Homo sapiens: one gene and its partners. The protein of the gene in region 3 purifies or fractionates together with the protein of the main gene of each other region. This does not show direct contact. Each region holds a gene or a part of one and is shown on either strand. Other genes may lie near its edges.

Evidence for each region.
Region 1: the proteins of SSX1 (region 3) and ACO1 purify together in Homo sapiens (affinity purification with mass spectrometry; one large-scale study listed by BioGRID and IntAct). This does not show direct contact.
Region 2: the proteins of SSX1 (region 3) and CRIP2 purify together in Homo sapiens (affinity purification with mass spectrometry; one large-scale study listed by BioGRID and IntAct). This does not show direct contact.

What each region holds. Positions count from the first base shown.
Region 1 is NC_000009.12:32,450,621-32,453,089, reverse strand, and holds part of ACO1 (cytoplasmic aconitate hydratase), read right to left. Parts: 3' UTR 1-2,469. UniProt on the Homo sapiens protein: Bifunctional iron sensor that switches between 2 activities depending on iron availability. Iron deprivation, promotes its mRNA binding activity through which it regulates the expression of genes involved in iron uptake, sequestration and utilization.
Region 2 is NC_000014.9:105,477,768-105,480,765, forward strand, and holds the end of CRIP2 (cysteine-rich protein 2), read left to right. Parts: intron 1-498; coding exon 499-593; intron 594-682; coding exon 683-740; intron 741-963; coding exon 964-1,104; intron 1,105-1,211; coding exon 1,212-1,280; intron 1,281-1,357; coding exon 1,358-1,452; intron 1,453-1,668; coding exon 1,669-1,726; intron 1,727-1,818; coding exon 1,819-1,886; 3' UTR 1,887-2,395; downstream 2,396-2,998.
Region 3 is NC_000023.11:48,261,870-48,265,525, reverse strand, and holds part of SSX1 (protein SSX1), read right to left. Parts: intron 1,745-3,656; coding exon 1,609-1,744; intron 1-1,608. UniProt on the Homo sapiens protein: Could act as a modulator of transcription. Plays a role in spermatogenesis.

The DNA of each region.
Region 1 (2,469 bases), on a different chromosome or scaffold from region 3:
TTAATTTGGATAGTAAGACGAGCAGCCCTTAAAGAACCAGGTAAAAGAAGTTGGTTTATTTAGGCTTGTTAGTGGGCAAGGTTGAGACACTGGCCAAGATACTTTTTTTTTTGGGGGGGGGGGGGGTGGTGATTGATTGATAGGGTCTCACTCTATTGCCCAGGCTGGAGTGCAGTGGAGCAATCATAGCCACGACCTCCCAGGCTCAAGTGATCCTCCCACCTCAGCCTCCTGAACAGCTGGGACCACAGGTGCACACCTGGCTGATTTATTTTATTTATTTATTTATTTATTTTTTTTTTTGTAGAGTGTTGCCCAGGCTGGTCTCAAACTTCTGGGCTCAAGCAACCCTCCAGCCTCGGCCTCCCAAAGTGTTGGGATCATAGGCATGAGACACCGTGCCTGGCGAAGATATTTTTACCGAAAAGGACAGAGGGTGTACTTGGAGGTAAGGGACCCAATTCCATTAGTCTAGCCACAATAATGTGTTTGTTTCCTCATAACCACAGTCTTGGTTGGGCTGCTGTAACTAAATATCAACTGGGTGGCTTATAAACAATAGAAATTTCTCACAGTTCTGGCTGGAAAGTCTAGGTTCAAGGCACTGGCAGATTCAGTATCTGGTGAGAACCCACTTTCTGGTTCACGGATGGTGACTTCTTGCTGTGTTCTCCCATGGCAGAAGAAATGAGGGGGTCTCTATCTTATCTTGAGTCTCTTTTAAAAGGCACTACCCTCATGATCTAATCACCTTCCAAAGGCCCCAGCTTCTATTACCATTACCTGGGGGGTTAAGGTTTCACCACCTGAATTTTGGGGAGGATACAAAAATACAGACCACAGGAGCCACTGAATGCGGGGAGCGAGACAGCTCCCCAGCTGCTCAGTAATGGAGAGCTGAGAGGGTGGAGGTCTGTTTTCTCAGCCATTCTTAGTGTTTTTATTCTAGGACTGATCTTAACTTGAGGATCACAGGTTTTTTTGTACAATGGAGTTCTGTTTGTTTGTAATTTTTTTTTTTTTTTGAGACGGAGCTTTGCTCTTGTAGCCCAGGCGGGCGTGCAATGGCACGATCTCGGCTCACTGCAGCCTCTGCATCCCGGGTTTAAGCAATTCTCCTGCCTCAGCCTCCTGTGTAGCTGGGATTACAGGCACACAATACCACACCTGGCTAATTTTTTGTATTTTTAGTAGAGACGGGGTTTCACCATGTTGGCCAGGCTGGTCTAGAACTCCTGACCTCAGGTGATCTACCCACCTCGGCCTCCCAAAGTGATGGAATTATAGGCATGAGCCACTGCGCCTGGCTGTTTGTTTGTAATTTATTTTTTAAATGAATATAAATAAGATCCCCAGGACCGCAAGTGCAGGGATGCTAAATAACCTGTCTTGATCCCTCATCTGGTGAGAAGTAGAAAGAGGATTAGATTCCAGATGTTCTGATGACCAGGCCATATCCCCTGAGTGCTAAGGTTGACATTAAAAATTCATTACAAAGATCCTGCCCTCCTGTCCTTGGACATCACAGCTCCTGCTTGTTCCTGGGCATTCAGACTCTGGGACTTATACCAGCATTCCCCATGCCCCTCCCCAGGTTCTTAGGCATTTGGACTTGAACCAAGTTGTTATACCACCAGCTTTCCTGGGTCTCCATAAGAGTGGGACCCTGATCCAATACAATTAGTGTTGCTGTAAGAAGAGACATGAGAGCCTATTTTCTCTCTCCCCCACCAGGCACATACCAAAGAAATGCCATGTGAGAACAAGCAAGAAGGTGGCCATCTGTAAACCAGGAAGAGTGTCCTCACCAGAAAATGAAGTGGCTTCAACTTTGATCTCAGAATTCCAGCCTCCATAACTGTGAGAAAATACATTTCTGTTCTTTCAGCCAGTCTATGGCATTACATTATAGCAACCCAAGCAAACTAAGGCATGCCCAGAAATGACTACAGGGGTAAAAATGAGCAGATAATTGGTTTTTAGTGTCCTGAAGTTTATCTGCTTTTCCTTATGTACTTATATCGTTGCCACTGCCACCAGGCTACTCTTCCTTCTTGTCTGCTCCCAAACAGGGAAGAGCGAGCATAATGGTTCCTAAACATTTCCGTTATACCCGTACAGTTCTGATAGAGTTGTAAAAATGGGAGAATATGAAGGTTATTCAGGCTTCCCAATGATATGGTGTGAGATTCACTCTGTACTAAATATCCCAAAACTCTAGCCACAAACACAGCAAAACTCAAAGTCAACAAGTTTTCACTGAAAATAGATTTCATTTCATTCAAATTAGAAATGTGTTCTCCCAAACCGCCTCCCAACAAAGGTCTCTGCTTGATAAATGAAAAGATAGTAAAAGAAAACTTCACATTTCTTTTTATGTGGATCTATCAAAAGGTACATAATCAAAACAACTTTAACACCCGACCTATCCATGAGGAGTCTGGATGATTCACTCTGAAGGAAAAGGGG
Region 2 (2,998 bases), on a different chromosome or scaffold from region 3:
GTGTGAGAGGAAGGTGTGTGGGAGGAGGCAGATTTGTGGGGGGAGGCGGGCGTGTGGGGGAGGCGGGTGTGAGGCGGGTGTCCGGGAGGCAGGTGTTGGAGCGCGGGCAGGTGTTGGAGCGCGGGCAGGTGTTGGAGCGCGGGCAGGTGTTGGAGCGCGGGCAGGTGTTGGAGCGCGGGCAGGCTCGAGCACAGGCCCCTTCACCGCAGGCACTGAGGGGACTAACAGGGCAGCCCCGGGCCCCTTCTCAAAGGCGGCTCTAGCGGGGTTCCAGGGCTGGGGGCGCTGAGACCCAGAGGGAGAACAGGGCCTGGGGGCGACGGGCTCCTCCGGGTCTCAGAAGGAGGGGCAGGGCCCGCCAGGTGGAAGGAAGGCGCCTGGGAGACCTCCTGAAAGTGGGGACCCCCGGAGCGCGTGGGGGTGGTGGCTGCCAGGTGGGGGCGGAGGGGGTGCGGGGCGCGCCCCGGCCCTGACCCCCCTGCCGCCCCTCCCGCTCAGCCGAGAAGGTGAGCTCCCTGGGGAAGGACTGGCACAAGTTCTGCCTCAAGTGCGAGCGCTGCAGCAAGACGCTGACGCCCGGGGGCCACGCCGAGGTGAGCCCCACTGCGCGGCGCGGGCGGGGGCGGGGGTCGCGACTCCCGCCACCCTCAGGCAGGGTCCTGACCCGCGCCCCTCTGCGCAGCATGACGGGAAGCCGTTCTGCCACAAGCCGTGCTACGCCACCCTGTTCGGACCCAAAGGTGAGCTCCGGCTGCCCTCGGCCTGCCCTGGGACCTGCTGGGAGGGGCGTGGCGCTGGCGCTGGGGAGGGCTGGGGGTCCCGGCCGCCGTGGATCCCCGCCCAGAGTCCCTGCCACCCTGGAAAGCCTAGTGCCCCCCAGTCCCCAGCGGGCCGTTTTCTGAGATGCCCGGTGGCCGCGGCCCCCACCCCACGTACCCCCGCCCCACGTACCCCCACCCGCAGGCGTGAACATCGGGGGCGCGGGCTCCTACATCTACGAGAAGCCCCTGGCGGAGGGGCCGCAGGTCACCGGCCCCATCGAGGTCCCCGCGGCCCGAGCAGAGGAGCGGAAGGCGAGCGGCCCCCCGAAGGGGCCCAGCAGAGGTGGGCTGGGCGCGGGCTGGGGCTGGGGGTTGTGGGCACGCGCGGGCTGGGGCTGGGGGTTGTGGGCACCCCCGGCCCCGCCCCGCCCTGACTCGTGCGCCCCACAGCCTCCAGTGTCACCACTTTCACCGGGGAGCCCAACACGTGCCCGCGCTGCAGCAAGAAGGTGTACTTCGGTGAGTGCGCGCCCGGGCCCCGGACCCCCGCCCCCGCCCCCGCCCCGGGGCTCGGCCTCACTCCTCCCCCTTTCCAGCTGAGAAGGTGACGTCTCTGGGCAAGGATTGGCACCGGCCCTGCCTGCGCTGCGAGCGCTGCGGGAAGACACTGACCCCCGGCGGGCACGCGGAGGTGAGGGGAGTGCAACGGGGCTTGGGGGCCGGGCAGGGGCGCGGGGTCGGGGGGATGAGGGTGAGAGGCGCGCCTAGAGGGGATGGGGGGTGGTGCTTCTGGGAGCTGCGCTGCCCTCTCCCCCACGGCGAGCCGGCCTGCACGTTCTGGAAGCCTCCAGGTGATGGGTCGGGGGAGTCTGTGGACTCCTCCCTCAGCACCCACCTTCTGCCCCAGCACGACGGCCAGCCCTACTGCCACAAGCCCTGCTATGGAATCCTCTTCGGACCCAAGGGTGAGTGTAGCCAGGGTGGTCCACGATGTCTTCCCTGCCCTCCCCTTCCCTCCACTGTTCCCCCGACCCACCCCAGCGGCCTCCCTCCACAGGAGTGAACACCGGTGCGGTGGGCAGCTACATCTATGACCGGGACCCCGAAGGCAAGGTCCAGCCCTAGGCTACAGCGGCTCTCATGATGTGGGCTCACCTGCGCCCCAGACCCTGCAGGGGCCCCCCTGCTTGGCTCTGCTGGGAGAGTGCTCAGCCGCCCAGTCCTGCCTGCAAGCCCAGGGCGAGTATTGGAGGAGGGGCAGCCACGGGCAGAGCACCATGCCCATCCCCGAGTCTCTGGTGTGTCTGCCCCCTCTGGCATCCTCTGGGCGTCCCATGATCCCTTCTGTGTCTGCGTGTCCGAATCCCCGTGTGACCCTGTCCCAGCATTTTCCCGCCGACCCTGCGTGTCCCCGTGGCGCTGTCCGCTCTCCCTCTCCTGCTGCCCACCCACCTGCCAGTGTTATTTATGCTCCCTTCGTGGGTGATGGCCACGCCCTCACCATGTCCCTGGCAGAGGGCTTCCCTCCGGGATCCCCTGCCTGGTGCCCACACTGCCTCGCAAGCGCTCGCCACCCTCACGTGGCTCACCTGCTGTTGAGCCTTGTGCTGTCAATAAACGGTTTGAGGATTGCAGGATTGTCTCTGCTTGTGGGATGGATGCAAATCCCAGACCAGGGTCCCTTTCTCCGGTCCATGCGTGCTCCCAGCCAACACCCCTGGGCCTGGCTGCTAGTGGGGGTGGGCTCTTCTCCTGGGGGTCATAGTGGGAGGTGGGGCCCTGGGATGTTTCTGAGCAGGAGGGAGGGATGGGGGCGGGGAGCGTGGTCTCCGGTTTGGGTGGTGGTGCCCACCCAGATGGGGAGGCAGTAAGAACGCCAGGCTGTGGGGAGGTAAGGAAGGTGGGAGGCATTCCGGGGCCAGGGTCCTGGCCAGGGTCAGGTGAGGGTGGGGTCCATGGAGGACAGAGCCTTGGAGAAAAGTTGAACCTAGAACCCTGAAAATACCAACAGCAGGCCTGAGAACCCGGAGCTGCCTGGGTGTGTGGACCCTGGCAAGCGCAGGAGGGGTCCGCCCTGAGAGCAGAGTGTGGCTGAGGAGGGAAGGGGGCCGGGGACCAGAGGAGGGGTCCTGGGCAGAGAATGGGGAAGCCGGCGAAGGTCGGGTGGGACAGAGGTCTCTGGCAGCCCCAGACTGGACTGGGATGCGCAGGAGGGTTTGGGGGCTCTGGTCAGAGCA
Region 3 (3,656 bases):
CAATGTTGTGTGTATTCTGACTGCTCCACCAATGAGCTCTTCCCCATCTCTTTTCCTTTTCTTGGGCCTACCTATTCCCTGAGATACAGCGATACTGAAATTAGGACAGTTAACAATCCTAAAATGGCCACTAACTGTTCAAATGAAAGGAAGAGTCGCATTCTCTCACATTAAATCAGAATCTAGAAATGGCTAAGCTTAGTGAGGAAGGCATGCTGAAAGCCGAGACAGGATGAAAGCTAGGCCTCTTGCACCAAATAGCCAAGCTGTGCATGCAAAGGAGAAGTTCTTGAAAGAAAGAATAGTATATAATGCAAAGGAAAAGTTCTTGAAGGAAATAATAATACTAATACCCAGTGAACACAAGAATAAGAAAGCAAAACAGCCTTACTGCTGCAATAGAGAAAGTTTGAGTGATCAGGATAGAACATGAAACCAGCCACAACATTCCCTTAAGCCAAAGTCTAATTCAGAGCAAGACCTGAACTCTCTTCAAGCCCATGAAAGCTGAGAGAGGTGAAGAAACGTGTGAAACTAGCAGAGGTTGGTTTGTGAGGTTTAAGGAAAGAAGCTGTCCCCATAACATAAAAGTGCAAGGTGTAGCAGCAAACACTGATGGAGAAGCTGCAGCAAGTTATCCAGAAGATCTAGCTAAGATCACTGATGAACGTGGCTACACTAAACAACAGATTTTCAATATAGATTAAACAGCCTTTTATCGGAAGTAGATGCCATCTAAAACTTTCATAGCTAGAGATGATTGACTCCAACTTTGAAAGAAGTTCTAAAGTGGCTAAATGCTATCGAATAGCATCACATACTACAGAGAAATCTTTCATGAAAGGGAGAGCTAATCGATGTGGCAAATTTCATTGTTGTGTTCTTTTAAGAAACTGCCACAGCCACTCCACCCTTCAGCAACCACCACCTTGATCAGCCAGCAGCCATCAACACCGAGGCAAGACCCTCCACCAACAAGAAGAGTGTAACTCACTGAAGGCTCAGAAGATTGTTAGCATTTTTTAACAATAAATTATTTTAAAATTAAGGTATGTACATTTTTAGACATAATGCTATTGCACACTTAGTAGAGTACACTATAGTGTAAACATAATGTTTTTATGCACTGCGAAACAAACGAAAAACAATGTGTGTGACTCACTTTATTGCAGTGCTCTGGAACCCAACCTGCAATATCTCTGAAGTACACCTGTATTGGGTATCAGGCATTGAGCTGAGTAAGATATGATCCCAGGTTATCACAGATAGAATCGCTTGAGCACCTTTCATGTCATCAGGCCTTCAGGATTTAATTTAATGCCTCCAAACAATTTACGAACTATGATTCTTTATTTCCATCTTATGGACTAGGAATCTGGAGCTGAGAAAATTTGGAAGACTTGTCCCAAGTCACGTGGTTTTTTATATGGATGACAACTCCAGTCTGCATCTCTGGAAGTCATGTCTAACATCTCATCTGGAGCTGGGCGAGCTCTTCAGCCCAGCCTGGACCCAGGCTTGTCTGGGATCCATGCCACACACCCAGTCCACACACCTGAACATAGCCAGAAAAGCCAGAGAAGTTGTTCCCAAATCATTTCCTCTTACCAGATCTCTTATTAATCTTCTCAGAAATATTTGCTTTTCCTGGGGGGTGCAGTTGTTTCCCATCGTTTTGTGGGCCAGATGCTTCTGACACTCCCTTCGAATCATTTTCGTCCTCTGCTGGCTTCTTGGGCATGATCTTTATAATGTGAAGGTTACAGATAAACAGTATCAGTGACATTTCTATAGTGCTTTAGAGCTTACAAAGCGTCTTCACATGCATTACCTTAATGAATGTTCTCAACAACGCGGGGAGAGTTACACTTGCCTAAATGAGACAAACCTGGGAGATTAGAAGCAAAAGGAATGGCCTAAATGAATGCAGTTTCCAGGGCTAGAATGCTTATCTTCACACTCTTTTAAGACTGACATTCGTGGAAACAGCAGAAATCTCCATGTAGTTGAGAGTGTAGTACACAGAATATTTGGAGAAAAATAGCATTCTAAGAATTCACAAGGTCTACAAAAGGAAGAGCTTCTATAAAATACAAGGGATCCCATATAAGCTCGTAGACAGCTGCTGGGAGAGTAAATGTAAAAACATAGGGAGGGGACAAAACACTGCTGGGAAAGATGGTGTGGGGAGATGAATACAGGGAAGGGAGAGGTAAAGAAATGGTTTGCTGAAATTAATCTAGGCAGCAAAGAAAGCAGTACCAGATCTGGCATACCACCCTACCGAGGCACCAACATTGAATGTGGAATTCAGTGAGGTGGTACCCATACCAATTCTGGTTACACTGGGATGTGTCACTGACCAACAATATTAAGCTACTCTTTTTTTTTTTTTGACAAAGTCTCGCTCTGTCACCAGGCTAGAGTGCAGTGGTGCGATCTTGGCTCACTGCAATCTCCTCCTCCCCGGTTCAAGCGATTCCCCTGTCTCAGCCTCCTGAGTAGCTAGGATTACAGGCAGGCGCTACCACGCCCTGCTAAGTTTTGTATTTTTAGTAGAGATGAGGTTTCACCATGTTGGCCAGGACGGTCTCGATCTCTTGACCTCGTAATCTGCCCGCCTCAACCTCCTAAATTGCTGGGATTACAGTCGTGAGCCCCCGCGCCCGGCCCTTAAGCTACTTTTTACTCAGCTTCCTCACTTATGAAATAGTGAATAATACATGTAAAATAAGCTAAGGGAAAATCCTCTCTGAGCTTGTAAACATTGTTCAAATGTAATAATAATAACATTGAATACCTTTCTGGATCCTTCTTTGAATTCGTTCTCCATACTGGCAACCCAACTCCCAGATCCCTTTACCTTCTAAACCAGAGCTGAATCTGCACTTCCAGAATCACTCATTCAGGGGCCTCTGAGGGATCCCCTGGGCTGGGACTGGGGCTTCTCGGATGCCCCAGGTGCAGACAAAGCCCTCAAGGAGCTCAAGGAGGGGCCAACAGTCAAAGCGATTCCTAAGCCATGGGAGTGGCCCCGGTAACAGAGCAGAGGCCAGCTGGTCCTTCCTGTTGCGAGAGTGGGTGTCTCAATGGAAGCACCAGTAGGCCCTATGGGGTAAAGCCCTAGTGAGCAACATCTGAACTTCATAAACAAATACAAACGTGAATGAGCTTTAAATGGCTTGGAGCTCTGGATTAGACTACCACTGACACTGTGCCCCAGGAAAATTCTTTAACATCTCTGTACCCCGATAGCCTCATTTTATTATTATGTTGCTGATAACTATGGTCTATAACATGAACTATTATTCTTTACTTCCATTTCATGGACTAGGAATCTGGAGCTCCGATAACTTAGAAGATTTGTGCCAAGTCACATGGCTTTTATATGGATGACAACCGAAGTGTGTGACTCATTACTATTTGGAGATAATAAAAGAAACAATGTCATAGAGGTCTTCTTATGGATTAAATTAATTAATCCATGTGAACTGCTTAAAATAGTATCTGGCATCACTATGAAAACAAAAGAAGTATTAAGGATCACAACTGTTAGTATTATCAAGCCGTCGGTGCTACATAAGTTGTTGTGATAGACATGGGGAGAAAGAGGCAATGAGGGCGTTTTTGATATTCTCCCTGTCTTATCAGTGTTC